Linked DNA regions of Homo sapiens. The protein of the gene in region 1 purifies or fractionates together with the protein of each later gene. This does not show direct contact. Each region holds a gene or a part of one and is shown in the gene's direction. Other genes may lie near its edges.

Region 1 (4,653 bases):
ATGGGAGAATGTCTGTAGCTGAGTAAAGCCCTGCAGGGAATTAGTTTCCCCTGGGTGGAGACTGGTTCTCTGATACAGTGACTGGCAGGACTAGGTTATGAAAAGTTAAGAACAGCTAGGTGAGTGGGTGGGTGAGGATCACAAGTCCCAGGCTGCATGAAATCCCAAAGGGCAGCCTAGGCGAAGAAGTGTTCCGTGGGAAAGAGCAGCCCTGCGTCTACCAAGCCTGGGGCCTGCAGCCCGAAGATTCCACAGCCCCTCCCTTCAGGTGTCACTGTGTGCAACGGAGGCCTCGGATGGGCTTGGTCAGGGGGTGACCAGTTGGGCCCAGTTCCCAGTGAGGAGGGAATAGATGCCTGGGGTGGGTCTGGAAAGTGCACAGTCAGGGCTGACGGCCAGCCAGAGCATTACAAGCTGGTTCCCACCTGTCTGGGTGTGCCTTATGCCATATTGTGTTATCCTGGCACCTTGTGACATACCCTCCAACCCCCACCCAGGGCGGACCTTTGAGGGCAATGCAGAGACCATGCTGAGCTCACTGGACACTGTGCTGGGGCTAGGGGATGACACCCTTCTGTGGCCTGGTGAGACACCCCCTTACTACTCCCCATCCTCCAGCCCCACGCTCAGCCTGGGACAAGGGCCTTCCCACCCCCTCACTCCCCTAGAAAGCAGGCCAGCCCAGTTCCTGGCCCAGAAGCGACACAGCTCCACCTCTAGGGGTAGGGACAGAGTTCTGGCCTCCCTTCTTCCTGGAGTGCTGGCTCCGTACCACCTCTGCTTCTCACACTACCTTCCCCTGCCAGTCAGCCTTCAGCCTCTTGGGAGCCTTGCAGGCCCCAGGGCATTCCAGAGAGATGTCTAATTGTTCATAGCCTTAGCCCAGAACAGAAAATAGCCTTTGCTTATCTGGGGAGAAGTCAGTAAATCCACTCTGCATGTAACCATTGCCTTGTGGTGCATAAAAACATTCACAGATATCTGTTAATCCTCAGAACATATATTCATTCATTCATTCATTCATCAAGTACTTTATGTGCACCTAACACATACCAGGCTCTGTTCCAGGCACCAGGAACACAGCAGGTACATCTGTGTCTGGTGGCATCATTGTTCTCTCCACTTGCCAAATGAGAAAATTGTGCCTCAGAGAGGGGCCATGACTAGACCGAGGTCACATGCTAGGCTTGGTGGAGTCAGGGCTAGATGCAGGCCTGCCAGCTCCAGGTCTAGTGGTTTTTTCCCCTGGAACTATTGCCACCTTTTCACCCATGGCTGACTTGTGCCCACAGTTAGAGAAGCAGCTCCTGGCAGTTGGGGTTTTCCTGGAAGTGCTGACCTCATCCCTAGTTGTCAGGTGCCCATCAGCCTGGACCTGGGGCAGGGAAGACTGTTCTGACTGTACCACCAATCTCTCTCTGCTCTGTGTCTCACCCTCATGGCTGTCGGTAGGTCATGAGTATGCAGAGGAGAACCTGGGCTTTGCAGGTGTGGTGGAGCCCGAGAACCTGGCCCGGGAGAGGAAGATGCAGTGGGTGCAGCGGCAGCGGCTGGAGCGCAAGGGCACGGTGAGGGACTCGGGGTCCAGGAGGAGCTGTGTGGGCAGGCACTCAGCCCCAACGGGAACCCATCCATGCTGACCCCAGGCCTGCGAGCACCTCCCCAAAACTCTGACCTCTTTGGCCCATGGGCCCTCAAGTCAGAACTCCTGAACTCCAGGATGGGGCAGGGGTCGGGTCAGGCTTCTCTGTCTTGGGTCCATTTCCCAGCTTCTCTCCACCAAACCTGGTTCCTCTCACCCACAGTGCCCATCTACCCTGGGAGAGGAGCGCTCCTACAACCCGTTCCTGAGAACCCACTGCCTGGCGCTACAGGAGGCTCTGGGGCCGGGGCCGGGCCCCACTGGGGATGATGACTACTCCCGGGCCCAGCTCCTGGAAGAGCTCCGCCGGCTGAAGGATATGCACAAGAGCAAGTGATGCCCCCAGCGCCCCCAGCCCAGCCCACTCCCCGCATGGGGAGGCCGCCACCACCAACACCTCATCATCCTTCTCATCGCTAACACCACCACCTCCATCGGCACCCAAGCGGGCATCATCCCCCCACACTGCTCAGGGGAGGGGAGGGATCAGGCGATGAGACTGTGAGGCCAAAAGAAGGGGGCCTGTTGGAGGCTGGGAACCCCGCAGCGCGAGGCTGCCTCATCAACGGCAAGAGGAAAGGAGGGGTCTCGGGACATCTCCAGACCCTACCAACTGGGAGGGTCCCCTCCTCCTTCCCTACTCCTGGGACGGCAGCAAGGACATGGGGGCTGCTGTTAGCTTCTCCGTCAGGAGGCCTCATCTCACTGTAGCCCTGGAACCCAGGGTCCATCTTGCCCTTCCCCCATCCATGGTTGGGAAAGAAGCTCAGCCCCTCACAGTGGCCTCAAGTGTGATGCCTTACAAAAGCACCACTCAGATGGGCAGCTGGACTCTGGTGTCCTGAGACTCTGCCCTCTTCCCACAGCCTCCCTGCCCCACCCATCCCTGCAAAGCCATTTTTCAGACAGAGCCATTCCTAAGAACACTGAAGGGCTGGAATGCTGGCTGGCCACTCTCTGCCTCAGTGGCCTCCCTACAGCCTGGAAGAAGGAGGGTCCTGATTGCCAAGGAAACCTCCTCATTGGGCTAAGGAGACACTGGAGTCTGGAGTGTGGAGCCCCACAGTCTTGCAGGTCACATGCTCTCCTTGCACATCTGGCCTGGTTGTACCCACTGGCCTCTGCCTCTGCCCTGGGCCAAAAGGGCCCCTCCTTGCCAGGGGAGAGACAGCCACGGTCCTCTTTGGCCGATGCTGTATTCTCATTTTGGCCCTTGTTCTTAGGCCCGTCTGCCCGCCTTCCTCCATCTAACCTTTCCTGTTTTATCCGCAGCCCTTTTCTTCTTTGAGTTAGTAAAGATTTATTCTGTAACCTGACACTCATCTGGCCCTTTGCAGTTTGCCAGCCATATTCCCATGTGATTTCCCACTGGATCCAGGCCCCCATCCGGCTGGCAGGAGGGGGCTCTGACGTGCAGGTTGGAAATCAGAAGTCTGTGAGAGCGCGGGAGTGCATGGCAGCTCTGGGTCCCAGACCTGGCCCGACCCCTCTGCTTCACCTCCAGCTCTGCTGCTCCTCTACTCTTGGGTCGAGATCCCTTTGGAGCCACAGCGAGGAACCCTGTGGTCCTCAGGCAGGTGTACCTTGAGTCAGCCAGGAGCCCTCTTTTCCTGTGTCAAAGCCTGCCCTCGGGCTCTGCTCACCTCTGGTGACCCTCCAAGATGCCCCTGCCCTCAGTTTCCCCTCATGATCTGGCCTCTGCCCCCTTCTCTAGCCACAGCCTCTAGTACACTTTAGCAATACCACCAGACTAGTTAGAGTTCCCCACTCACCAAGCAAGACATGCAGTTTCATGCCTCTGTGCCTTCGCTCATGCTGTTTCTTCCGACTGGAATGCCTTCCCCTGCTCCTCCTGCCTTGTCTGCCTGGCAAGTTCATCTCTCACGATCCCCTCAAAGGCCCCCTCCTCCAGGAAGGCAACCCCTGTGCCCCTCCCCTCCAGGCTACCTCTGCACTTTGTCAATGCTTCTCTTGTGGCACTTATCACACTGTATTTTACTTGTTTACATGTTTGTCTCCCCTTCTAGACTGTGAATCCTTAAGGGCATGGACTGTATCTTATGCATCTCTGTATTTCTGCGCCTAGCACGGTGCCTAGCACACAGTAGGCGCTCAATAAATGTTGAATGAATGAATGATTTAATCAAGACTTGATCACCCAACAGCTTGTCTTTGTTGCTACATGAGTGAAAACAGCAGAGAACTTTCTCACAGTTTTCCCATCTCAGTTCCAGGCCTGCTAACTTGCAGTTAGGCACTTCAAGAGTTTTGATCAGAAATGATGCCCAAAGGCTGGGCGCAGTGGCTCACACCTATAATCCCAGCTCTTTAGGAGGCTGAGGCGGGTGGATCACAAGGTCAGGAGTTCGAGACCAGTCTGGCCAACATAGTGAAACCTCATCTGTACTACAAATACAAAAAATTAGCCAGACATAGTGGCAGGAGCCTATAATCCCAGCTACTCAGGAGGCTGAGGCAGGAGAATCACGTGAACCCAGGAGGCGGAGGTTGCAGTGAGCCGAGATCGCACCACTGCACTCCAGCCTGGGCGACAGAATGAGACTCTGTCTCAAAAAAAAAAAAAATTTTTTTAAAAAGAGAGAGAGAAATGATGCCTAAAATATGTTCTTCCCAAGGCCCATGGGCATTTGTTCAGGGTTTACGATTTGCTTATCTCAATGTTTCCCAAAGCTTGAGATACACAAGTGTACCACTGGCCAAAGTAGGGTGGCTGTACATGGCCACAGCACAGCAATCAATTGGACTTCAAGGACACGGTCTTGGCACTAGTCTGTCTTTAATGTCTTTGGAAAGAAAGACCCGGGATCCAGGTTCATACTTTAGTTGGGAAATGTCTGTAGTTAAGCTTTAACAACATCGTTTTGTTTTCATTATATTTATATTTGGGTTCAATATTTATTTTTGACAAGTGACACTGGTTTTCAGTTCATAAAAATGATTAAAGGGCCGGGCGTGGTGGCTCACGCCTGTAATCCCAGCACTTTGGGAGG
Region 2 (3,500 bases), on another chromosome or scaffold:
ATCAACATAGTGAGACCCCATCTCTATGTTTTTAAAGAAATTAAAAAAAAAAAAGTAACATTGATACAATTCTTTTATCTACACTGCATATTTCTATTTCATCAGTTGTTGCCATAATATTCCTTCTAGCATTTGTTTGCCAGTACTGGATTATACAGTTCAAGATTGCATAATGCATTCAGTTGTCACATCTCTTCAGGCATTTTTCGTCTGGAATTGTTCCTCAGCCTTTCTTTCCCTTTCATCACTTAATATTAAGAATATAGGCCAGTTATTTCATAGAATTACTGCCAGCTGGGGTTTGTGTGATGTTTCCTTATGCCATGATTCAGATGATATATTTTTGGTTGGAATACTACATGCATAAGCGATGTTGCCAAATACCCATCTTTTTAAGTATAGTGTTTCCTTTAGTCTTAGAAAATCACAGTTAACATGTGTCTTTGAGTCATTTAACAGGTTTTTTAATAAGTTCATCATTTTCTTTAAAAATAGTTTATTTTTAAAAATAGTTTGATTCTATTGCTCACTGTTGAACAGTTTCCAACCTTCTTACGATGTTTTAGATTTTGAAACATCATGTCTTCCTTACAAATGGACATTCTAATTGTGGATCTGAAAAATGCAGAGACTCTTAAGAGCTAAAGGAATGTACATTATCAAAGTAAATAGTTGCTTTCTCCCCTAATATATTAACTACATTAATTATAGATTAGTTGAAGTCTAAGAGGCACTTGTCTCAAAAAATGAATAAAAACTAAATTGCTGAGATATTATTTAATAATTCACTTTATTTAAAGTAATATCGTGAGATATTATTTTGTTTTTACTCTTCATAATAGCTGAAAAAATGACAGTGACCAGTGTTTTCAAAATGTTCTTATTGAGCATTCTCATATATTGTTGGTTGGCATATTTGTTGAAAATAATTTGGCTGTATGTTGTGAATTATTTAAAATTGTGTAAACTCTTTTACTCAGTAAATTCCACTTCTAGGAATCTGCCCTAAGGAAGAAATCCAAAATCCAGACAGATTTTTGCACAATTATACTCATGTTTCAAGTTTAAAAAAAATGTGTGTATGTGTATAAACTTTACAAAGCTTTGTGTTGACAGCTGACTTTGTAGATTACAGCAAGAAAGCTGCTCTGCTATGTATGACACTCTGACCCAGAAGCAGGTCATCTGAATAGTTTAGCACCAGGTTCTCCACAACCATCTGTTGTGTGACATAGACGTTTTTGTGATAGTAAAGAATTGGAAACAACAAATTCCAGGTTAGAATTAGAAGAATGGTTAAATAATAGAATATCTATTTAATTGTATATAATGGTGTACTTAAAAATGAAGCTAAGAGTTGATAATGATATGAGTAAAGTGTTTGTGGTGCGAGAAAGAAATATGCAAAAATAATAGTGAGTGCTTCTGGGTAGTAGGATTTGGGGGGGGATCTTTCTTCCCTTTTCCCCAAGCCCCCTGCTTCAGTAAAGATCTGTTACTTTTATAGTCAGGAAAAAGTGATATTAAAAAAATTACAGTACCCAATGAAAATTACAGTTGTGACCATTAACTTAAACAAATCACATGTATATTTTAGCTCCTGAAGCTGAAGGAGAAGTGCCAGAGCTTTATCATCAAAGAAAGGGGGAAATAGCAAGGTGCTGGATCAAATACTGTTTGACTCTCATGCAGAATGCCCAACTCTCCATGCAGGTAATGCAGTCAGAAGCTGCCTTTTTCTTTCTTAAATGAGGAAATTGTAAGTAAAAACTCATAGTGGGGATTGTGCTCATTGGGGTCACATTGTGTTTAATATGAAAGGTGTGTAGAATGTTTTCGTAAATATTTCTTTCTTGGTTTTAAATCGTATTCTTCGAATTGCTTGAATCCGGGAGGCAGAGGCTGCGTGAGCCGAGATTGGACCACTGCACTCCAGCCTGGGCAACAGAGCGAGACTCCATCTCTAAATAAATAAATAAATAAAATAAATCTTACTCATCATTCAAGGCCTATCTTAAATACTACCTCTTCCTTGAAGACTTTTCTTTGGTTAGAATATAAGCTTCTTGAGAGCTGGGAACGATATCATATTCTTTTTTTTTTTTTTTTTAGACAGGCTCTCGCTCTGTTTCCCAGGCTGGAGTGTGGTGGCGTGATCATGGGTCACTGCAACCTTGGTCTCCCCGGCTCATGCAGTCCTCCCACCTCATCCTTGGAGTACAGGCGTGTGCCACCATATCCAGTTAATTTTTAAATTATTTTGTAGAGACTGGCTCTCACTGTGTTGCCAAGGCTGGTCTTGAACTCCTGGGCTCAAGTGATCTTCCTGCCTTGGCCTCCCAAAGTGCTGGGATTACAGGTGTGAGCCACTGTGCCTAATCTTTTTTTTTTTTTTTTTTTTTTTTTTTTTGAGACGGAGTTTTGCTCTGTCGCCCGTGCTGGAGTGCAGTGGTGTGATCGCAGCTGCAACCTCTGCTTCCTGGGTTCAAAGGATTCTCCTGCCTCAGCCTCCTGAGTAGCTGGGATTACAGGTGCCTGCCACCATGCCTGGCTAATTTTTGTCTTTTTAGTGTAGATGGGGTTTCACCATTTTGGCCAAGCTGGTCTCGAACTCCTGACCTCAAGTGATCCATCCATCTCGGCCTCCCAAAGTGCTGGGATTACAGGTGTGAGCAACCACACCTGGCCAAGCCCTTACTAATCTTTATATACTTCCCAGTGTTATCTTACACACAGCATGGACTTGATAAAATCTAAAAGGGTAGACTTTTAAGAAATAGCTCATGTAATAGTTCAAAAATAGAAGCAGAACTGATGGCAGTGAAGAGCATGGACTTGAAATACACTAGGTAGGTATGAACTCCAGCTCTGCCGCTTCGTAGCTATGTCTTTGTGGCAATTTACTTAATATATTTTTGCCTCTATTTCCTCACAAGTAAGTTGGAGATAATAGTACTTAATACTGTTGTTATGGGAGTTAAGTCAGTATATATTAAGGCCTCGGAAAAGTGCCTGAGACATACTAAGTCCTTAATAAATGTTAACTACCATCATCATTATTAATTTATGCCCAATCCTAGTTTCTAAGCACTAGGGAGGATAATAAAATTAATCATTTAGATGCAATATACTAAGTGTAGATACATAGGAAGATTTCCTGGGGGATTCATTGTGCTTTTATTTTTTTATATTGTGTATTAAAGTATGATAATTTTTTTTTTTTACATGGGACTCTGCTTGATAAAAGTATAATAATCTTTAGTGGTTGTATTAGTCTGTTCTCACACTGCTATAAAGAACTACTTGAGGCCAGGTACAGCGCCTCATGCCTATAATCCCAGCACTTTGGGAGGCCAAGGTGGGTGGATCACTTGAGCCCATGAGTTTGAGACCAGCCTAGACAACATGTTGAAACCCTGTCTCTACCAAAAATACAAAAAATTAGCCAGGCATGGTGGTGTGCACCTATAGTCCCAGCTACTGGGGAGGCTGAGGCAGGA
Region 3 (4,378 bases), on another chromosome or scaffold:
GATCGTGTTCTTTTTTTATGGCTGCTTAGTATTCCATAGTGTACATATACCATGGTGTATATGTATTTTCTTTGTCCAGTCCATCACTGGTGGGCATTTAGGTTGATTCCATGTCTTTGCTATTGTGAATAGTGCTGCAATGAACATTCACCTGCATATCTTTATGGTAGGATGATTTATATTCCTCTGGGTATATATCCAATAATGGGATTGCTGGATCGAATGATAGTTCTACAAACAATACTTATCAAAACTTGTGGTTGCAGCTAAAGTTGTATTAAGAGGGAAATTATAGCCTTAAATACTATATTAAATTAATTAAATTCTGGTAAGATTGGTCAAGAAAAACAACAAAAAAGGGATGAAGATAATGCTAATGCAAATTAGAAAATGTTATAAATTTTAATCATATTTAAATAAACTTATATGTAAAATAATCAGTTATGAGAAAAGTATGGGACCAAAACATTCAAAAAGAAATAGAAAATCTGAATGGCCCTATGGCCATTAAAAATGTTGGTTTATTAGTTAAAAGTTTTCCTTCCCTCAATACTCACCTGAGTTTGGACAGATGCTAATTCCAGGGTTACATAAGCTTTTTCAAAAAACGGGGGGGAAAAGTAGCAATTCTCTTTTCATTTTCTGAGTCTTATGTACTACAATCTTGTTAAAAAAACTAGCAAGGAGAGTAAGAATGAAACTTAAAAGCTAGTCTCACTTAGGAACCTAGCAAAACAACCCCAAAATCCAGCAATGTATAAAACAGATAACATGACCAAATTTGACTTATTCTAGAAATGCAAGGTTTAATTAATATTAGAAAATTGTCCAAAATATTTACACATTAATGAAATTATGTTACTACACATTATAGGCCTTTGCATTATTGATTTAGTATAGTCTTAGTTAAATCTGAGAATGCCAGGTGGCTGGAGAGCATGTTGAATAACTAAAATTCAGTTTTGAGTGGAATACTGTGGACCACAGTAGATGGCACAATTAATTTGATTAAAGGGAGTCAGATGGTCTCTCAGAGGTGGCAAAATGTGAGTTAGGTCTTGATGAATAATATTTTTATCAGCATGTTTGAGATTTCAAGTGGAAATAATGGGTGCTGAAGTATGGCAGTGGCATTTGGGAATGGTAAGTGATATAATTAGAGCATGGTAAGGTTATCAGGAAGTGGCAGGAGATGAAACTAGAGATTTGTGCCAAATTGTGAAAGGCCTTGACTGCCTTGCTTCTTGCTAAACAGTGGAATTTATCAACCCACTGAGACAAAGTCAGTTAAGATTTTTGAGCCTTCCATATATTTAGCTGCTTATATTTAATGTCTTGTCTTTAAAAATAACACGTATGACTTGTTGTTTGCATGCTTTTGCATATATAACTTATTTGAAGTTAGGTGCTTCTACTGATTGACTTTGACTTTTTGTTCACAAAAATATAGGGATCTTGATTTATGACTGGACCACTTAATGTATTAATTTGCACTGTGTTATATCCTAAACTTTTAAAACTACTCATGACTAATGTCTTTCACCAAACTGTTACCTACGAACTTTCTAAAGAAATGTGTGACAAAGGCGTGATTAGTTTCATTTGCTCTGCCATTTTTAGCTGTATATGTGATAAAACATGTTTTAATACATCTCTTTTTAACTTCGATTTTATTTGGAATTTTTGAATGAGCTGTTTGTTTGTTTTTAAGCAAAGTAATTGGAGTGAACTTTCTTTGATTCCCAGGTTTTCTTTTTTCCCCTTTTTTCTTTTTTTATTGCATTGGTAGATGCAGGGCAAGAAATTTATTACTCTAAATTTGTGACTCAGAATTTTAAAACTAAATTAACTTCATAAATGCGCTCACTTTTTTCTTAATGCATTACGTCTAACCCCCAGTGATACTTTTATTTGATTTTCTTGATTATGTAATTTGTTTGATATTTCTTTTATTTAAGGTGTGACTGCACAGAAAAGTTACAAAACAAATTTGACTTTTTGCGCTCACAGTTGAATGATATTTCGTCATTTAAGAATATCTACAGATATGCCTTTGATTTTGCAAGGGTAGGTGCAATTTTCTTGTTTTGTTGTTTTAATAGCTTTTCATCTTGAGACCACACTTAGGAAAACTTTTTCACTTATATTTTAGGATAAAGATCAGAGAAGCCTTGATATTGATACTGCTAAATCTATGTTAGCTCTTCTGCTTGGGAGGACATGGCCACTGTTTTCAGTATTTTACCAGTACCTGGAGGTACGTATGTTTTTTCGAATTTTGAAAATATTATTTTAAAACTTAATCTGAAAGTTATACTTTTGAGGAACAAGTAGATTTTTAATAGTATGCTTTAAAAAAACTTTAGAGAAAAAATTCTAAAATATGTACATATCAGTTGCTATTTTTAGATAGAAGTTCATGTTTATTAATATATTTTGTACCTAAGATATTTTCAATCCTACCCCCCCAGTCCCCCAAATAAAAGAAACCTCCAAGAAATACATTGTATCACAGACATTTGTCTTGCAGAATTAGTTTCTCGGGGTTTTCATAAGAGAGTTAATGCTAGTACACAAACCTTTAAGCTTCTAAATCTGATTTTCTTCTTTTGTTACACAGGGTCTTAAGCTGAAATGTACATAAGAGAACCAATTTAGTAATAAAACTTTCCTTTTCTACTTAGGCTCAATCTAAAGAAACAGAATAAAGCTATTAATATTTTATGGCCACAAATATGAGAATGGCTATAATAGTATACTTAAATATGCTGGTTACTAAAAAAATGTAAGCTGAAATGATGACGTGTTCTTTTAGAAGGTTTATCATAGCAACTACTATAGGCAGTGATTCTAAGAAGATGCTATTCTTTTTTTCCATTGCTTTGTCTAGTTTTTTTTTTTTAAATCTGTTTTTGTGCCTTTGTAATTCTAGGGTTATTGGTATAGTTCTCACCATATCTTGAATACAGATGCTTTTTCCTTTGGAAATAATTTCTCATAAAGCACATTGCTTATAGCTGCTTCCCTTTTCCCAGAGTAGTAAAAGTTGTGATACAAGACAGTGATATCAGCTGGGCGTGGTGGCACACGCCTGTAATCCCAGCACGTTGGGAGGCCAAGGCAGGCAGATCACTTGAGGCCAGGAGTTCGAGACCAGCCTGGCCAACATGGTGAATCCCCGTCTCTACTAAAAATACACACAAAAAATTAGCTGGGTGTGGTGGTTTGTGCCTGTAGTCCCAGCTACTCGGGAGGCTGAGGCACGAGAATTGCTTGAACCAGGGAGGTGGAGGTTGCAGTAAGCTGAGATTGCACCACTACACTCCAGCCTGGGTGACAGAACGAGACTCTGTCTCAGAAAAAAAAAAAAAGAGACAATGATATGAAAAGGTCTTACATGAATGAGTTTTACGCATGATTCAATCTGTAAGTCCTATAAATTATTTTTGATGGATGGTATCTATTTTCTTCCTATTAGTAGTTTTGGGCAAAAATAAATTTAACTGAATGTAAAAATATTCAGCTCTATGGGGAGCTGAGAAGAACTAAATATTTTCAGACACTTGTTATGTGCAGGTTGTTTGGCATATATTTTTAAAAATCTTTATAATACCATTTTGAATTAAATTCTATCCCCATTTAACAAATGAGGAGGTGGTTTCTATTCTTAAGTAACTTTCCCAAAATCACTCAATTAAGTGGCAAGGGTGGGATTTAAATCGAAGCCTATACTCTTTCACTTGTTTCCAAAGATGCCAAACTCAAAATGTGGCTAAACAGTAAATCTTGAGCAAAGAAATGATTTACTAGGAAGCAGCACAATAGAACATACTGGATGTAGGAAATGTTATATATCTTGATCTCATTGGTGGTAACACAAGTATATACATATGAAAAAGTTAGTTTTATCCTTACTGTTAGTACTCAGTGCTCTTATTATTCCTCAAAAATGAAAAAAAAAGTAAAAAATAGATTATGTTAATATGTAAATGCCCATGAGGAATCTCTTAGAAACACAAATAATTAAAAAAATAGTAAATGTTTTAGAAAAAACCAAATCACAAAAACAGTTAAAACTTAGTTTACTAAATTGAGTAAATGATGTTTGTTTAAATATTTAAATACAAATATTTAAATCATTTTTGCAGCAATCAAAGTATCGTGTTATGAACAAAGATCAATGGTACAATGTATTAGAATTCAGCAGAACAGTCCATGCTGATCTTAGTAACTATGATGAAGATGGTGCTTGTAAGTATAACATAACATGTTCCTTTGAAAACAAAATTTCCAAAAATATTAAATGAGAGTATGCATTTGTGTAGTATTAGCATAGAGGTTTTAAACTTTGTAATAGTAACTTATTTAATTGTGTGAG
Region 4 (3,500 bases), on another chromosome or scaffold:
CCCCATTTTATAGGTGAGAATAGGCTGGAGAAGTTAGCTTGCCCAAGGTCACTTGGCAAGTAAGTGGCAGAGCTTGGGTCGAATCCAGACAGCCTGGCTTTGGAGACCTTCCCCTTCCCCATCACACTAACTGCTCCGGATAGAACCATCACACCAGGCAGCACACCAAGCATTTCCCAAGTGCTCACTCATTCACTCTTCTCTAAGCCTCTGGGAAAGAGACAACACATCCCTGTTTTGCAGATGAGGGGACTCACACTTAGAGAGTCGAATGGGCTCCTGTCAGGTCACCTAACTGTTCATCTGGGAGAGTCAGGAGTGTGTCCAAGGCCTCCCAGGATGATCTTGAGGTGGACTGGAGGCGCAGTCATAACAACCACGTAAACTGGCAACTTGGGGGCAGTGGCAGTAGCAGGGAGGTAGGGAGAAATGTGGGAAGTCCATGTTAGAGTTGAGATTTTAGACCTCATGGAATATGAAGTGGAAATGTTCAGATAATTGAGGCTGTAGGATTCAGATACGGTTTTGTAGAGTAGTCGCCATACGGAAGCTCTGAGAATGGATGAGATTTCCAAGAGGTGGTTGCAGGAAGAAAGTATCAGAGGCTTGGACAAGTGTGGCATAGGCAATAGGATAGGATACTCTGTTAGACAAGACAGAGGTGACTTTCTATTACAAAACTCGTCCATTTGTCTGCTCAGAAACCTTCTACTCCTTATTTCTGCAGAAAGAATGATCACTCCCTCAGCCTGCTGTTCAGGCCCTTTCAGCCCTGATGCGTTTTGGATCCTAAGCAGGTGGAAGCCCCTTGCAGCTCATTGGACAGACTCCACGCTCAGACCCCCAGCCTTGGGGCCCTTGCTCTGTCCTTCCTTCTGCAGAGGGCTTGCCTCCATCTCTACCTGTCCAGAATTTTGCCCCATATTTGAGACCTTACGTAGCTCTTTCTTCATCCTGCCCACCATTTCTGTCAACTTGGAATGTGATTTCCCTCCCATGAGTCCACGTTGTACTTTATCCTCTTCTTGGCGCTTGTGATGCTTTGTTCTCTTAGCTTGGAAAGGGAAGCTAGCATTTATTTCAGCCTGCTACGTTTCAGGCAGAGAGGGAGAGTACTTTTGGCTATAGTGGTCACACGTACCCTCCTTTTCCCTGCTAGCCTGTGTGTCACGAGGACTGCCCCTCTGTCCTGCTGCCATCGTTCCCTCAGGGTTGCCCAATCGAGTGCCTCTCATATGGGGGGTGTCTATTAAACAATAGTTGAGTTACATGGGAAGAGGGCTAATGAAGTACTTAATAATAAGGAACCGAGCTTTATGAAAATGAAAATGGGATTGACAATTCTAGACCCTAGTTTCCAAGTACTAACTTGACAGAAATGCAATGATGTGAGAAATTAAGAAGGAGATAGAGGCATTAGGAAAAACAGACCGGAGTAGAGGGTAAGATAGTAAAGCTGTTCCATTAATGTGAATAAACAGAAACCTTTTGGTTCATTTTTTTTAAGTTGAATAAAAGTGTCTTGAAATGGCTGTAAAACAAAGGAATAATATTTGAGAGAGCATTACAGTTGAAATCCCGTTTGTGGCTTCGATTCTAGGAATATAACATTGTTTCAGTTTTGTTCGGTGCCAGTTTTCACTTTGCAGCTAGAGCTGATGGCATCCTCCCCCCATTTCATTGAAAATATTGTGACATCTTGACTTTTTCTATGGGTTCTTTTCTACTTTGGTAATTCCAGTTAGCAGTTTGCATTTTATATCATCAGGTTGTATTTTCAAGGCTTTGATATTGTCTGAAGTGTTTCTTCTCAGTCATTCATAAGGAGTATGCATAGTTATATACATTATTTTTTCTGCTCTGCATCTTATATTCAGAAATATTTACACCAAAAAAGCATAGAATATGTGGGAATTTAATATTCTTTTTATAACATGAATGGGTAGAAAAACTGTAGAGCCCTTATAATTAATTGATGACATATAATTAATTGATTAATTTTAAGAACATTTAACTGAGGATATGTTAATATGCCTTGAATGAATTCCAGCAGTGATCATTTATGGATAAGTATCCTAATATTTTCTGCTAAAGGTCAGCAACTGTAATCTGTATCGCCTTGGAAAAAAGAAGGGACTACCCAGCCGCATGGTGGTGTCAATATTTGATCCCCCTGTGAATTGGCTTCCTCCTGGTTATGTAGTAAATCAAGACAAAAGCAACACAGATAAATGGGAAAAAGATGAAATGGTAAGTTTGTGTGTGTGTGTGTGTGTGTGTGTGTGTGTGTGTGTGTGTAACTGGAGGGATTTACTTTTCGGTGAGCCAAATAATTTGTTTTATTAATTTTTTGTTTCATTTTCTTGGTATGTTTATAATAGAGTAGATATTTGATATATTTAATTAATTCCTTTAATTACACTGTCTTTTCACTGAATTCAGAAATAGTATTATAATTTTGATGGAGGCAAATTTCTATTTTTATTATTTCTTTTCCAAAGGCATAAGAGTATGTGATGTTTTGACTTTGAGTTTTGCTCTTCTTTAAAAAAATTTCACTTTGCTGTTATTACAATTTATCCTAGATCCTTAGCTCTGTTCAGTGAAATGACTTTTCAGTGACCTGTGATCTCCAGTCTGTCTGTGAAATAATTAATTTCAGTAAAATCTTGCTTTTGTAGCTCAGGGTTTTCCCAGTCAGGACTCCTGTGAACTTAAAAAAAAAAAATCATCCATAAAGATTGTTATTTTCTGGAAATAATTTAAATCTTGCCAGTGACTTAAGAAGACTCCAAATATCAGCAACAGCCACTTCATTTTGTCTTGTCTTGAAGGCCACCAGAGGGCACTTGGGAGGGCCTCCAAACTGCAGGAACCAGCGCAGTGGTGGTTGACTGGGAGAGTTCTAGTGCCTCTTCCGAAGTTAAAGGCAATGCTTCAGACAGTTTCATTTCTTGGAGATTTATTTTGCATTAAAAATAAATTGGCTCATTGTTACTTCATTTTTACCTCAGGCCAACAATGATAATACCGTTTTTTTCTTTCAAAGGTTATATTTTTAAATATCCATTTTCTCCATGTCTTCTTTGTGATGCATGTATCCTATATATCTGCCTTTAAGTATTTCCAGGTAGCATGTTCAGTGACACTATTTGGATTTTTACCTATTTATTGAGGATGTTTTTAACTCATGTAGTATTTGTCTTATTACAGAATTAGAACTTATTTGGAAAAGCATTAAGGGAATATTTTAATGCAAGTTAGGTCCGAACAATTATTTGTTATTAATTTAGAAATATGTAGAACCTTAGAGGAAAATGTATAGATTTTCAACTTTAGAAATGGTATGGTATTTCTATGAATAACATTCCAGTAACAGTCATCCTCCTTTGTTAATACCGTTTCATAATGTTTTTGGCTCTTTTTAAAAACTTGTAGCATGAAGGTGACATTGGCATGTCATTGATTTTTTTTTTAAGATACAACACAAAGTTCAATTT
Region 5 (4,681 bases), on another chromosome or scaffold:
AGTGAGCTCAGTGGATTGCAGCACTGCACTCCAGCCTAGGCGATGAAGCAAGACCCATCTCTATTAAAAACAAAAAACAAGCAAACAAACAAAACCAGCGCTGGGCATGGTGGCTCACACCAGTAATCCCAGCACTATGGAAGGCCAAGGTGGTAGGATCACTTGAGCCCACGAGTTCAAGACCAGCCTGGGCAACATAGTGAGACCCCACCTCTACTAAAAATTTAAAAAAATTACTCCAGCATGGTAGTGCGCTGCTTGTAGTCCTAGCTACTGTGGTGGCAGAGGCAGGAGGATCACTTGCGTCCGGGAGGTCGAGGCTGCAGTGACCCATGACTGCAGCACGGCTCTCTGGCCTGGGCGACAGAGAGAGACCCTGTTCCAAAAACAAAAAAACCACAACACTACAGACTAACCTCTGGCTAACAAAGGAATTTTTTTTTTAAGGTGGGGTCTCACTGTGTTGCCCAGGCTAGTCTTGAACTCCTGGACTCAAGCAAACCTCCTGCCTCGGCCTCCCAAACTGCTGGGATTACAGGCATGAGTATGCACCCAGCCTAACAAAGGAATTTCATTAAGGCTTTATACCTTTGAGAGAAGAAAAACAATTAAGTATTATTACCATAGCAATGCATACTAACTAGGAAAATCAATCTGAACAGCAGACCTTTCAGAGGTTAGGGGTTATTTTCCCAATTCATGGTTTACATAATTCCTTTCTATAGTTTATATAACTCCTACCACCTGCCATTCAGTCACCTTTGTAACTATCATTTTTAATAATGCACATTCTCAGTTTATTCTTTACTTACCGAGTTCCATTTACCTTGGAAGTAAAAACATTTTTTCCAAATTCTTACAGCTATCTGCTTCAGCAAATGGTTAAATACACCCTAAATTAAATACTTTATTTAAATGAATTAATCATATCTACCAAGTCATATATGATTTTTTGTTTTTTGTTTGCAGATACGTAAAGAAGGGAGAGGTAACTATAGCACAGATCAGCTGTGTGTTCTTGACAATGTGAAAATGAATTTGCGAAGATTTATTGCTTATCAAGAAACTGTTGAGAAAAGACTGACTTCTTAAACAATCCAAAAAAGAAACCAGTTCTTCCCCCAAAGTATTCAATGCTTAGAATACTAAAAGGTTTTCTTTGAATGTATATGTTTCTGAAAGTCATTTTTTAATGATTACATTCTGTACATTCTGTAAAAACTTCAAAACCTGGCCAGGCATGGTGGCTCACGCCTATAATCCCAGCACCTTGGGAGACCGAGGCGGGTGGATCACTTGAGGTCAGGAGTTTGAGGCCAGCCTGGCCAACATGGTGAAACCGCATGCATAAGCATGGTGGCACATGCCTGTGATCCCAGCTACTCGGGAGGCTGAGGGAGGAGAGTCGGTTGAACCTGGGAGACAGAGGTTGCAGTGAGCTGAGATCACGCTACTGCACTCCAGCCTGGGTGACAGAGGGAGACCCTGTCTCCAAAAAAAAAAAAAAAAAAAAACTTCAAAACCTGTCAGAAACTCTGTTGCTGGTTTTTTTGTGTGTGTGTTTTGTTTGTTTGTTTTGTTTTGTTGTTTTTTTCTTTTTTGAGATGGAGTCTCACTGCTGCCCAGGCTGTATTACAGTGCTGCGATCTTGGCTTACTGCAACCTCTGCCATTCCAGGTTCAAGCGATTCTCATGCCTCAGCCTCCTGAGTAGCTGGAATTACAGGCACCCACCACCACACCTTGTTTTTGTTTTTGGTTTTTTGGTTTGTTTTTTTTTTTCAGTAGAGACGGGTTTCACCGTGTTGGCCAGGCTGGTCTCAAATTCCTGACCTCAAGTGATCCGCCTGCCCTGGCCTCCCAAAGTGCTGGGATTACAGGCATGAGCCACCGTGCCTGGCCAGAAACTCTTTTTTAAGTGATGAGATCTGTGTGGCATTTCTAGCGCTCTCTAAATTATGTCTCTGGCATATTTTAATCACTGGAAACTCAAAGAGTGGAAGAGTGGAAGTGCGAAGGAATCTCAGGTAGCTCTTAACTAATTCGCCAGCAGTGAAGAAACTTCAACCAATCATGTTTTCCTTGAATTTTGCAAAGAAAGAAAATCCAAAGCATTGCTTGGATGTTCTTTTAAGGCATTTTATATCAGTTGAACCTTAAACTGAAATATGAAGACAAGCTTTATAAACTAGTTTTTTGATATGAAGTATATCAATTATGTTTGCCTTTTGTGAAGAAGTAAATGAGTTGAATTTCTATTTCACTTACTAGATTATACTAATGAGCTAATGGGGTCATTGCCATCCTCCCTACTCATGACTTTGATGAGTTATTGCTGTAACATCACTTCTTGATTTAATTTGATATGGAATCAGAATTGGGAGAAGGTATTTTTAAATAAACAACTTTTTAATGGAAAGTTTTGTGTCTTACAAAATCTTTTTTAAGATACCAAATAAAGGGTTATTAGTAGAAAATGAGATGATACTATTCGTGGATATTTGTTTGCTAATGCATATTGCTTGGAATATATGTGAGACATTAAAAAAATGACAGCACGACTTTGCAGCATTACCTCTCAGTGTCTTCGAAGTACTAGGTGACAGCTGGGGCTCGAGGGAGTTTCCCTGTGCATCATTGTCTCGGCTGGGCCTCTGAACCGGCTTCATTGTCCATCCGTTTGCCTGATGAGAAGGGAAATTTGAAAATTTCTGTACAGTTGATCTCAGTTGCCCTGACAAAAGGCCCAATCCCCAGTACAGGACTTAATTTTAATTCACTGCTTCCACAGCAGCACAAAATGAGCTAGTAGTGTTAGATTTCATCTGCACTGTGATGTATTTTACAGTTTTCACCTATATGATATAGACTGTTGGGAAACCAAGATTGTTTCCCAGCCCTAAGAGTTCCTAGCCCATGGCACCAAGTAAAATAACCCAAATTGTGTATATGGTGGGAAAACAGAAATGTATACCATATACAACACCTCGCTTTATTATGGTCCTTGCTCATGAATTTTAAGGTATATATGTATGTTTAGTGATCATTTCAGCTAAATGATTGGCCCAAGCATGTCTCCTTGGAGAACGACTCTTCCAAAAAAGAAAGTATTAGAGTTCTCTCTGCCTCAATTATTTATAAAATATAATTATTTTCAAGGAGAAAAAAGTTCCTCATTCTGTTTATTCTTCCCCACAGTTTCTGACCTATAAACAATATCCAGGATATTTAGCACAGGACCTAGTATATAGTCGACTCTTCATAAATATTTGTTGAGTAAATAAATGCTGGTGATTTTCTCGTTGTTTTGTGTGTGATTTTCTGTTTTACTAAGCAAGCTCTAAAGCAGCTGTTGAATGCAGAATCATCCTTAAACACGGTAGAAGATGAGATGACACTGAAGATGTGCCATCCTAAAAATCTCTTAGATTCTGAGGCATGGATAATTGGGTCTGGATTTCTCCCATTCAACTTTACCACTCTAACGACACAAAAGAAGGGAAAACAACTCATAAATACAGCATACAGTTTTAACTATTTACATAATAACTCAATAGAGCATGCAAGTATTATTCATGGCACAGGATAATGGAGAGCTTTTTCTGTATGACCATAGGGGAAAAAAAGTCTGCTTTAAAATATACTTATTTGAAAATCACCCAGAATAGCCCGTTAGAAATACACACTGGAGGCCAAGCATTTTGGGAGGTCGAGGTGGGCAGATCACTTAAGGTGAGGAATTTGAGACCAGCCTGGCCAACATAGTGAAATCCCATCTCTACAAAAATACAAAAACTAGCTGGGTGTGGTAGCATGCACCTGCAATCCCAGCTACTTGGGAGGCTGAGGCAGGAGAAACTCAAACCTGGGAGGTGGAGGTTGCAGTGAGCCAAGATTCCACCACTGCACTCCAGCCTGGGCAACAGAGCAAGACTCCACCTCAAAAAAAAAATAATTAGCCGGGTGTGATGGCCCATACCTGTAATCCCAGCTACTCAGGAGGCTGAGGCATGAGAATCACTTGGATCCAGGAGGTGAAGGTTGCAATAAGCCAAGATTGCACCAGTGCACTTTAGCCTGGGCAACAGAGTGAGCTCTGTTAAAAAAAAGAAAGAAATATACACTGTTCAGGCATAGTGGCTCACACCTGTAATCCCAGCACTTCGGGAGTCCAAGACGGGTGAATCACTTGAGCTCTGGAGTTTGAGACCAGCCTGGGCAACATAGGGAAGCTTTGTCTCTGCTAAACATAAAAAAAATTAGCTGAGCTTGGTGGCGCACACCTGTAGTTTCAGCTACTTGGGAGGCTAAGGCAGGAGGATGGCTTGAGCCTAGGAGATGGAGGCTGTAGTGAATCATGATTCCATCCTAAGCAACAGTGCAAAACCTTTCTTAAAAAAAAAAAAAAAGGTTGGGGGCTGGGCGCAGTAGCTCACACTTGTAATCCCAGCACTTTAGAAGGCCAAGATGGGCAGATCACTAGAGCCCAGGAGTTCGAGACCAGCCTGGCCAACATGGCAAAACCCTGTCTCTACTAAAAATACAAAAATTAGCCGGATGTGGTGGCATGCCCCTGTAGTCCCAGCTACTGGGAAGCTGAGGCAGGACAATCGCTTGAACATGGGAGGCGGAAGTTGCAGTGAACTCAGATCACGCCACTGCACTCCAGTCTGGGCGGTAAG
Region 6 (4,378 bases), on another chromosome or scaffold:
CATTGATACCAAATCTTTTAACAGTATAATAGACTGACTAGAAACCCTTTACATATAGCCCCTCCCATACAGGTGGAACACTGGACATAGGTTACATCAAGGAGGAAACTCTCTTTGGCCTTCTTCAAATACCAAACAGTTTCATTTGCCATATGTTGTCTTTGAACACAGTAGAGCTCCTTGTACTATTTAAAAAAAACCATTCATCTTCCCCTCCGCACCCTGCCCCCACCCCGGAACAAGAACACTATTTGTGTATCTAAGTAAAAGAAAACAGGAATTTTGCTTTGATTGTTTCCTACACTCAGTGACAACATATTGCCCTCTTCTCATTGGTTACCATATGGAAAGAAACCATAATTCTGCTAAAGTTAGTTCAAATTAGACTTAAGTTTCTTTCAGTCCAACTGAGTTTCCTGTTTGGGAATCCAATCTTCAAACAACATTGGTTAAAACTGATACAGTGACTTGTGTTTGTCCAATTTGGTCTTTTTCTGTAGCACTTGTTCTTGCTCTATCACGTTAAATCTTTTGTGGTTTCATTTGAAATGAAGACAGTGGTCTTAGAAGATAACTTTCAACCAGTTGTTCCTCCAATGTATACTAAAAATTAAGCTTTTCATGGTCAAATGTGTATCACCAGGGAATTTCCATGTCTATTGAATGTATAGTTGTTTAAAACTAATGATAAGCCACAGGATTGGCTTTGGATTATTTTTCATGCAATTACTCATTTTCCTGTAGTGACTTGGATATGCCATTTGCCAAGTGGACCAAGGAGCAGGTTTGCAATTGGCTGATGGAACAGGGCTTGGGCTCGTACCTGAATTCTGGCAAGCACTGGATTGCATCTGGCCAAACGCTTTTGCAGGCTTCTCAACAAGATCTAGAGAAGGTGACTGCTTCTCTGTTTTGTTCACACAATGGATACTGAGAAGAAAACAGTATGAATGTAGGGTTGTTTTATAGTCCAGAAAGGGCCATGAGTGAAGCCAGTAAAAACTCTGTAAACAAAAGTTTGGGTTTTCAATTGCTTCATGCTTCTTTTTTCTGGTGGTCTTGGGAGGACCTGGTCTTGATGATTCCTTATGGAACACTTAAGCCATTGGGCATTTTAATGAAAAAGAATTACATAAGCATAATTCAGTTCATATTTCTCGAAATCATTGTTTGGCTTTATCATTGGCCTGTTTTTCTCAGTGTAAGATATGCAATTAACTTCACTTTGCAAAAGAAAAAAAAAAAGCACCCTACAATTTGTGTCTAATTATTTAACATTTCTTCCAAATTATTTAATATTTTGTACAAAATAAGAGTCAAATTCTTTTTATGCATGCTACAGTTCCTAGCTTACAAAGAAAATGAGTCACTAGGGAATGCCTAACACACCCCTAAGATAATTGTGGTGGTCTTGGCTTTTCAGGGACCTTTTGTTCAACAACACTTTACTAGCCCAAGTTGGGATTGTAATTCAGTATTGAATTGGGTCTTTAATGCTAGCTTCATTTTGGAGAAATTTGCATCCTTTGCCAGTGGCACCCAGCCTATACAGATAGAATTATAAAGTCAATGTTTATTGTTTCAGGAACTTGGAATCAAGCATTCACTTCATCGAAAGAAACTCCAGCTAGCACTCCAAGCCCTGGGATCTGAAGAAGAAACCAATCATGGGAAGCTGGATTTCAACTGGGTCACTAGTAAGAAGTTTTTATTCTAACAAAATGAAATAATTATATACATAGTTGCTTTTTCTTTTTAATCACAAGAACAGATGTTTTGTGGCATGGTAGCAACACTGGCCTCTCTCTTTTAGGATGGTTGGATGACATTGGCCTCCCTCAATATAAGACCCAGTTTGATGAAGGACGGGTTGATGGTCGAATGCTACATTACATGACTGTTGTAAGTGACTCACTCCTGGGGTTTGGGGGAGGAAAACTTTTTTTCTCTGAAAAACACAGGAATTGAGTAAGCCAAACACAGTGTTTTCAGTGATTCCACCAGAGTTTGAAGCTGTTGCTTGAACTTGAGGAGAGTGGCAGGCATATTTCCCATGAGGCTGAAGTTGTAGCATTTGGTGATTGTGATTGAACAGGCTTGGGATAATTTGAAACCCCAATGTAAGCTAAGTGAAGCCTAATTTAAACTAAGCTCTCCAGAAGGTTGATTTTATATGTAATACATTCAACAAAGTAAACACTGAAGTGTACACTTTGAATGGGTACATTTTATGGTATGCAAATTATATCTCATAAAGATTTTTTTTGTATTATTTCTTTTGAGATGGAGTCTCGCTCTGTCACCCAGGCTGGAGTGCAATGACGTGATCTCAGCTCACTGTAACCTCTACCTCCCAGGTTCAAGCCATTCTCCTGCCTCAGCCTCCCGAGTAGCTGGGATTACAGGCTCACGCCACCATACCCAGCTAATTTTTTTGTATTTTTAGTAGAGACGGAGTTTCGCCATGTTGGCCAGCTGGTCTCAAACTCCTGACCTCAAGCGACCTGCCTGCCTCGGCCTCCCAAAGTGCTGGAATTATAGGCATGAGTCAACACGCCCAGCCTAAAGATATTTTTTAAATAGAATGTAGAATTTTTAAGCCCAAGCTATCTCTAAGTTATGGGTTTCTATGTGCAATGACCATTTGGAAGAGGCCACCCTTTTGACCTGACATCTTCAAGGACTTGTCTTCTCCTTTCCACTCTGGACAACTGTTACCTGAAACCCTATCACCCGTCTCACTTCAGCCTAGTTCTGCTACAGCAGGAGTTACTGGGGTTAAAGGAGGAGGGAGGAAGGCTAGACTTCTACTCTGGTTCCTTCATTATTGTACATTTCTAGCCCTCCAGCCAATGTGTAGGACTATTCCCTGCTTTACAGCAGTGAGAAAGATGGATTCCAGGAGAACTTTGTTTTAGGTTCCATACCACTATTAATGTTCTACTTAAAATTCTCTTTATTTATTTATTTTTATTTTTATTTTTATTTTATTTTATTTTATTTTGAGACGGAGTCTCGCTCTGTCGCCCAGGCTGGAGTGCAGTGGTGCGATCTCGGCTCACTGCAACCTCCCTCTCCTGGGTTCATGCCATTCTCCTGCCTCAGCCTCCCAAGTAGCTGGGACTACAGGCACCTGCCACCATGCCTGGCTAATTTTTTGTATTTTTAATAGAGACGGGGTTTCACCATGTTAGCCAGGATGGTCTCGATCTCCTGACCTCGTTATCCACCCACCTTGGCCTCCCAAAGTGCTGGGATTACAGGCGTGAGCCACCGAGCCTGGCCTTGTTCTACTTAAAATTCTTTTATTTATTTATTTATTTTGGAGACAGAGTCTCACTCTGCTGCCCAGGCTGGAGCGCAGTGGCACAATCTTGGCTCATGGCAACCTCCACCTCCCAGGTTCAAGTGATTCTCCTGCCTCAGCCACCCGAGTAGCTGGGATTACAGGTGCACACCACTGCTCCTGGCTAATTTTTGTGTTTTTGGTGGAGATGGAGTTTCGCCATGTTGGCCAGGCTGGTCTGGAACTTCTGACCTCAGGAGATCCACCTGCCTCGGCCTCCCAAAGTGCTGGGATTACAGGCGTGAGCCACTGTGCCCGGCCTAAAATTCTTTTATTTAAACAGCTTTTTGTGAAGTAGGCTATAGACCTAACTACCCTAAGTATAATCTTTTTCAAGTAAGTAGCAAGTTTTAAACAGCCAACTTAAGTAGGCATTTCTCAATGTCAAAAAAATTTGGAGTTCAGTTCATGGATTTTTCTTCTCTGTCATTGAACCCAAGCCCCTTACCTTGATGAGCACATCACATAAACCTGCGTGAAATAATACTAATATGTGTAGTATGTTGCACATTTGCTATGTGTCAAACATCCTTTTAAGCATTTTGCTCATATTAATACTGGATTCTCAATAACCCTTTTAGTTAATATTACTAATATTATTATAGTGTGTATAATATATATTAAAAAGTTTTTAAAACTTTTTATTTTAAGATAATTTTAGATTTACAGAGGAGTTGCCAAAGCTAGAATTCTGTATACCTTTCACTCAGCTTCCTCTAACGTTAACATCTTACGTAATCATGATTACATTCATCAAAATTAAGAAATTAACGTAGATGTTAATACAATCAACTAAACTGAAGACTATTCACATTTCACCAGTTTTTCCAGTAAGGTCCTCCTTCTGTTCCAGGATCTAATCTAGGACACTACATTAAAACACACATTTTGTGACTTACGACTTCTGGGGTCAAATTTTCCAGGGTCATTTACTCTTTTATAGCCATTTCACATACGCTGCTTGTGATTTTAAGCTTGAATTTGTTCACATATATACTATATAATTATGTAATACTGTATATACATAGTATT
Region 7 (4,378 bases), on another chromosome or scaffold:
CTCCGCCTCCTGGATTTAAGCCGTTCTCCCACCTCAGCCTCCTGAGTAGCTGAGACTATAGGCGCATGTACCTAATTTTTGTACTTTTAGTAGAGAAAGGGTCTTACCATGTTGTCCAGGCTGGTCTCAAACTCCTGGGCTAAAGTCATCCCACCTCGGCCTAAAAAGTTGATTTTTATCACTATTTGGGGAACCCATGTGAAGGGTGCATGCAACCTCTCAGTACTTTCCTTGCAACTTCCTGTAAATCTATAGTTATCTCAAAATGTAGGTTTGGATTTTTAAAAATTGCTTTTCCTGTGACCATAAGCATCTGAGTGTTAAAACGTGATCTCTTATCAATTGAATAGCCTGTTAACACTTATTTGTACAGTTGAGCAAAACAAGACAAATATATTTAATATCACAGATTTTGATCATGTTTAAACCTGACAAGTAAATGAAATGTTGCTAGAGATACATCTTTTAGTGATGCCTTGATTAAAGGAGGCTTTGTGGGCACTACTGTTTTTCATCCTCCCTTAAGTTGGCACCTCATGGTGTTGATGTGTCTTGGCAGTGCACTCTGGATGGATGAGGCGCATCATGATTGTGAAGGGTGGGGTGCAGGAGGCAGGGCAGCCCAAGGAGGACATGGGAAGTAGGGTTTGCAAGGTTATTCTGTAACCCTTTTTCACATTCCGTTTAGACAGTGTTTGGGAGCCCCTGGGTCACACTTGCACAACTGTGCAGACCACTGACCTCCAGCTAATGGCACCGACATTGTCTTCACTCTAGGAAGGCAGTGCTACAAAAAGAGACAGACGAGAATCTGAAACTTCCCGACATGTCAGCTGGGCTTCCTAACTTTTTTTGTCCTTGGGCTTTTTCTTTGTTGTTTTGGGGATTCATTTGCTTTTGTTTCTAAGTTTTTAGCCTAGTTCCCCTTATGGGAATGGGATCAATCATTAAAGCGTTTGATTTCCTCTGAGAAACCAAGGCTAATAGTGCCTGCTCAGAACTGTTTCTGTGATCTTAGGAATGGATTAAACACCAAGTTTAGGTGTAGTGAACTTAGCAAAAATTGCAAGGCCATCTGCTTCACATATGTGTTTGAGCCACAGGCTAAGGATCTCTAGAGATCTGAGTGAGAAAGAGAACTGAGCCCCCAGAGCCTGGCGCTCCCTCCACAGACCTGTCTTCAGTATGCCAGCCACCGGGCCAAGCATTTTATTCTGGTCACATGACTTTCTCCAAACCTTGAAAAACTACTGTGAAGTCAGCTTATTACCATAGTTCATCAAATTCAAGAAACCATTCATTATAATATACACCACTATTTTATGTACCATTATTAGACTATGACACAGTGCCTTATTTTCACTTAGAACTTTCATATTTATTGAAAGGACTCTTAAGACTTTAGACAGATTTTTACCATATTCTTATCCATACATAGAAAATACAAGTAAAATAATAGGTTAAGATATTCCTAAAAATATTTCACTTTCAGAATTTAGCACGAATGAATCACTTCCCAATCCATAGTCATCAGTGTTGTCATTCATCCCAAGTGCAATAATAAGGTTGGCAATTTAGCATTTGCTAAGAGTTACACCATTGTCTCCAGGATTTCTTAGAACCCTTTATCTCCAGTGTATAAGGTTTTTTTGGGGGTTTTTTTTTGAGACAGAGCCTCACCTTGTTGCCCAGGCTGGAGTGCAGTGGCACAATCTCAGCTCACTGCAACGTCCGCCTCCTGGGTTCAGGCGATTCTCATGCCTTAGCATCTCAAGTACCTGGGATTATAGCTGTGCACCACTACACTTGGCTAATTTTTGTATTTTTAGTAGAGACGGGGTTTCACCATGTTGCCCAGGCTCGTCTTGAACCTCTGACCTCAGGTGATCCGCCCGCCTCAGCCTCCCAAAGTGTTAGGATTACAGGCATGAGCCACTGCACCTGGCCCAGTGCATAAGTTTTAATGCTGGTGTTATCTTGTCTTATCAGAAAATGTCTGTAGAAGGTTTTCAGGCATTATTTTTAAATGGTTTATTGACTAAAAGTCTAAGGGTTATAATTGCCTCATCATGTAATTTCCAAGGATAGGTACATGGCCAAGAGGCTCCCCAAGGTCAGAAATGCTAAAATGTGAAAGCAACGTGCACTTTAGAATCCATTAAATAAAATATTACTCCTATTTTACAGATGAGGAAACAGGCTCAGAGAGGTCAAGTGACTTGACCAAGGTCACACAGCAAGTAAATACTGTGCAGCCTCACTGCTTCCCTAACATACCTTTATGAACAGTACAGGAGCCCCCATGAGAGGGTAGCTATCCTTTTTCTTCTTTTCTTTCTTCTTTCTAAAGAGACCCGAATTCTAGTGGTTGTAAAGCAGCAGCCTCCTCTGAAGAAACTCGGGAAGAGAGGAGAGGTGCATGTGTTTGGCAACTTTCCCGATGGGATTTAATATCTTAAGCTCCTGTAGGAAACAGGCAGAAAGTGAGATGATATCTTGAGATCTCGGTGGATGAAGATGTTTTAGCCATTCGGGGTTTGGGAGGCCTTTAGAAATCCAGTGAAAGCCTTGGGCCTTTTTCTAGAATAGTCACATGCACTCAGAAGTTTGCTTTCTGAAACCAGACCTTCCTGTTTCAGAACGTTAGCCCTGCCAAGAGGTGTAGGCAGTACTCTAGATCACCAATGTCCAAAGGACCTTTCTGTGATAACGGAAATGTTTTGTGTCTGCACTGCTCAGTACAATAGCCATTAGTCGTGTGTGACCGCTGTGTACTTGAAATGTGGCTGATGCAATTTAGGAACAGAATTTTTTATTTTAATTTATTGAAATATAAATAGCAACATGATGCTCCTAGTGACTAGTGCAGACCTGCGTTGCAGTTGAATGCACTGATAAAAATGGCTGAAGTTCGGCCAGGCACGGTGGCTCCTGCCTGTAATCCCAGCACTTTGGGAGCTGAGGCGGGCGGATCATGAGGTCAGGAGATCGAGACCATCTTGGCTAACATGATGAAACCCCGTCTCTACTAAAAATACAAAAAATTAGCCGGGCGTGGTGGCGGGTGCCTGTAGTCCCAGCTACTCGGGAGGTTGAGGCAGGAGAATGGCGTGAACCCGGGAGGTGGAGGTTGCAGTGAGCCAAGATCGCGCCACTGCACTCCAGCCTGGCAACAGAGTGAGTCTCTGTCTCAAAAAAAAAAAAAAAAAAAACAAAAGTTGAAGTTCTCCATTATAGGTTGTGACCAGGTCTTATTTTTAGGAATGGGACTTTATCATTTTTTATTTGAATTTATTTTTTCCTTTCATCCTTGTCTGACGAGTAATGAATCTTGAGAATATGTTCATACAATAATATGTATTATTTGTTCAGAAATGAAAGCTGGAACTCTATGCTTCCCAAGCAGTGTCTCTTTGGGGTGTAATTATTTCTCCCTTCTCATTGTTTCAAGGAAAACCAGCATTGGAATCAGCTGATTCAGGATGCTCAGAAGCGTGGTGCCATTATTAAGACCTGTGACAAAAACTATAGACATGATGCAGTGAAGATTCTGAAACTCAAGCCTGTGCTGCAGAGAAGTCTCACTCACCCTCCTACCATAGCCCCAGAGGGGTCCAGACCCCAGGGTGGTTTGCCCAGCAGCAAGCTAGACAGTGGATTTGCCAAGACATCTGTTGCTGCTTCTCTATACCACACACCCTCTGACTCCAAGGAAATTACTCTTACTGTTACTTCAAAGGACCCTGAAAGACCTCCTGTTCATGACCAACTTCAGGACCCACGACTGCTGAAGAGGATGGGCATTGAGGTCAAAGGAGGAATATTCCTTTGGGATCCACAACCCTCGAGCCCCCAGCATCCTGGAGCAACACCTCCTACGGGCGAGCCGGGCTTCCCTGTCGTTCACCAGGACCTGAGCCATATACAGCAGCCCGCTGCTGTAGTGGCTGCTCTGAGCAGCCACAAACCTCCCGTGCGGGGCGAACCTCCAGCTGCCAGTCCCGAGGCTTCCACGTGTCAGAGCAAATGTGATGACCCGGAAGAGGAGCTCTGTCACAGGAGAGAGGCCAGGGCTTTCAGTGAAGGGGAGCAGGAGAAGTGTGGTTCCGAGACCCATCACACCAGGAGGAACTCTAGGTGGGACAAGAGGACACTGGAGCAGGAGGACAGCAGTTCCAAGAAAAGAAAGCTTTTATAGGAAAGCCCAGTGACATGGGCCAGCAGCCACAGCATATTGTAAACTGAAGATGACCAGCTCGTGGGACCATCTAGATAAGCTTGTTTTTTGTAAGGAGTTTGTGTGCTGTTGGAAAACATGGAAAATGCATCCTTAACACCTGAGCCTCTGGTCATCTTCAGTATTTTCTGTCATTTGCAA

The links.
Region 2: the proteins of PNKD (region 1) and KIFBP purify together in Homo sapiens (affinity purification with mass spectrometry; 2 studies listed by BioGRID and IntAct, with this or other methods). This does not show direct contact.
Region 3: the proteins of PNKD (region 1) and DCUN1D5 purify together in Homo sapiens (affinity purification with mass spectrometry; 2 studies listed by BioGRID and IntAct, with this or other methods). This does not show direct contact.
Region 4: the proteins of PNKD (region 1) and DICER1 purify together in Homo sapiens (affinity purification with mass spectrometry; 2 studies listed by BioGRID and IntAct, with this or other methods). This does not show direct contact.
Region 5: the proteins of PNKD (region 1) and HEATR3 purify together in Homo sapiens (affinity purification with mass spectrometry; 2 studies listed by BioGRID and IntAct, with this or other methods). This does not show direct contact.
Region 6: the proteins of PNKD (region 1) and PPFIBP1 purify together in Homo sapiens (affinity purification with mass spectrometry; 2 studies listed by BioGRID and IntAct, with this or other methods). This does not show direct contact.
Region 7: the proteins of PNKD (region 1) and SETX purify together in Homo sapiens (affinity purification with mass spectrometry; 2 studies listed by BioGRID and IntAct, with this or other methods). This does not show direct contact.

The regions. Positions count from the first base shown.
Region 1 is NC_000002.12:218,343,003-218,347,655, forward strand, and holds the end of PNKD (probable thioesterase PNKD isoform 1 precursor), read left to right. Parts: intron 1-497; coding exon 498-584; intron 585-1,452; coding exon 1,453-1,568; intron 1,569-1,805; coding exon 1,806-1,979; 3' UTR 1,980-3,791; downstream 3,792-4,653. UniProt on the Homo sapiens protein: Probable thioesterase that may play a role in cellular detoxification processes; it likely acts on a yet-unknown alpha-hydroxythioester substrate.
Region 2 is NC_000010.11:69,009,303-69,012,802, forward strand, and holds part of KIFBP (KIF-binding protein), read left to right. Parts: intron 1-1,597; coding exon 1,598-1,713; intron 1,714-3,500. UniProt on the Homo sapiens protein: Activator of KIF1B plus-end-directed microtubule motor activity. Required for organization of axonal microtubules, and axonal outgrowth and maintenance during peripheral and central nervous system development.
Region 3 is NC_000011.10:103,064,148-103,068,525, reverse strand, and holds part of DCUN1D5 (DCN1-like protein 5), read left to right. Parts: intron 1-1,958; coding exon 1,959-2,067; intron 2,068-2,152; coding exon 2,153-2,257; intron 2,258-4,148; coding exon 4,149-4,251; intron 4,252-4,378. UniProt on the Homo sapiens protein: Contributes to the neddylation of all cullins by transferring NEDD8 from N-terminally acetylated NEDD8-conjugating E2s enzyme to different cullin C-terminal domain-RBX complexes which is necessary for the activation of cullin-RING E3 ubiquitin ligases (CRLs).
Region 4 is NC_000014.9:95,098,530-95,102,029, reverse strand, and holds part of DICER1 (endoribonuclease Dicer), read left to right. Parts: intron 1-2,094; coding exon 2,095-2,250; intron 2,251-3,500. UniProt on the Homo sapiens protein: Double-stranded RNA (dsRNA) endoribonuclease playing a central role in short dsRNA-mediated post-transcriptional gene silencing.
Region 5 is NC_000016.10:50,103,970-50,108,650, forward strand, and holds the end of HEATR3 (HEAT repeat-containing protein 3), read left to right. Parts: intron 1-969; coding exon 970-1,092; 3' UTR 1,093-3,303; downstream 3,304-4,681. UniProt on the Homo sapiens protein: Plays a role in ribosome biogenesis and in nuclear import of the 60S ribosomal protein L5/large ribosomal subunit protein uL18 (RPL5). Required for proper erythrocyte maturation.
Region 6 is NC_000012.12:27,680,802-27,685,179, forward strand, and holds part of PPFIBP1 (liprin-beta-1), read left to right. Parts: intron 1-744; coding exon 745-895; intron 896-1,585; coding exon 1,586-1,697; intron 1,698-1,813; coding exon 1,814-1,902; intron 1,903-4,378. UniProt on the Homo sapiens protein: May regulate the disassembly of focal adhesions. Did not bind receptor-like tyrosine phosphatases type 2A.
Region 7 is NC_000009.12:132,264,059-132,268,436, reverse strand, and holds part of SETX (probable helicase senataxin), read left to right. Parts: intron 1-3,451; coding exon 3,452-4,198; 3' UTR 4,199-4,378. UniProt on the Homo sapiens protein: Probable RNA/DNA helicase involved in diverse aspects of RNA metabolism and genomic integrity.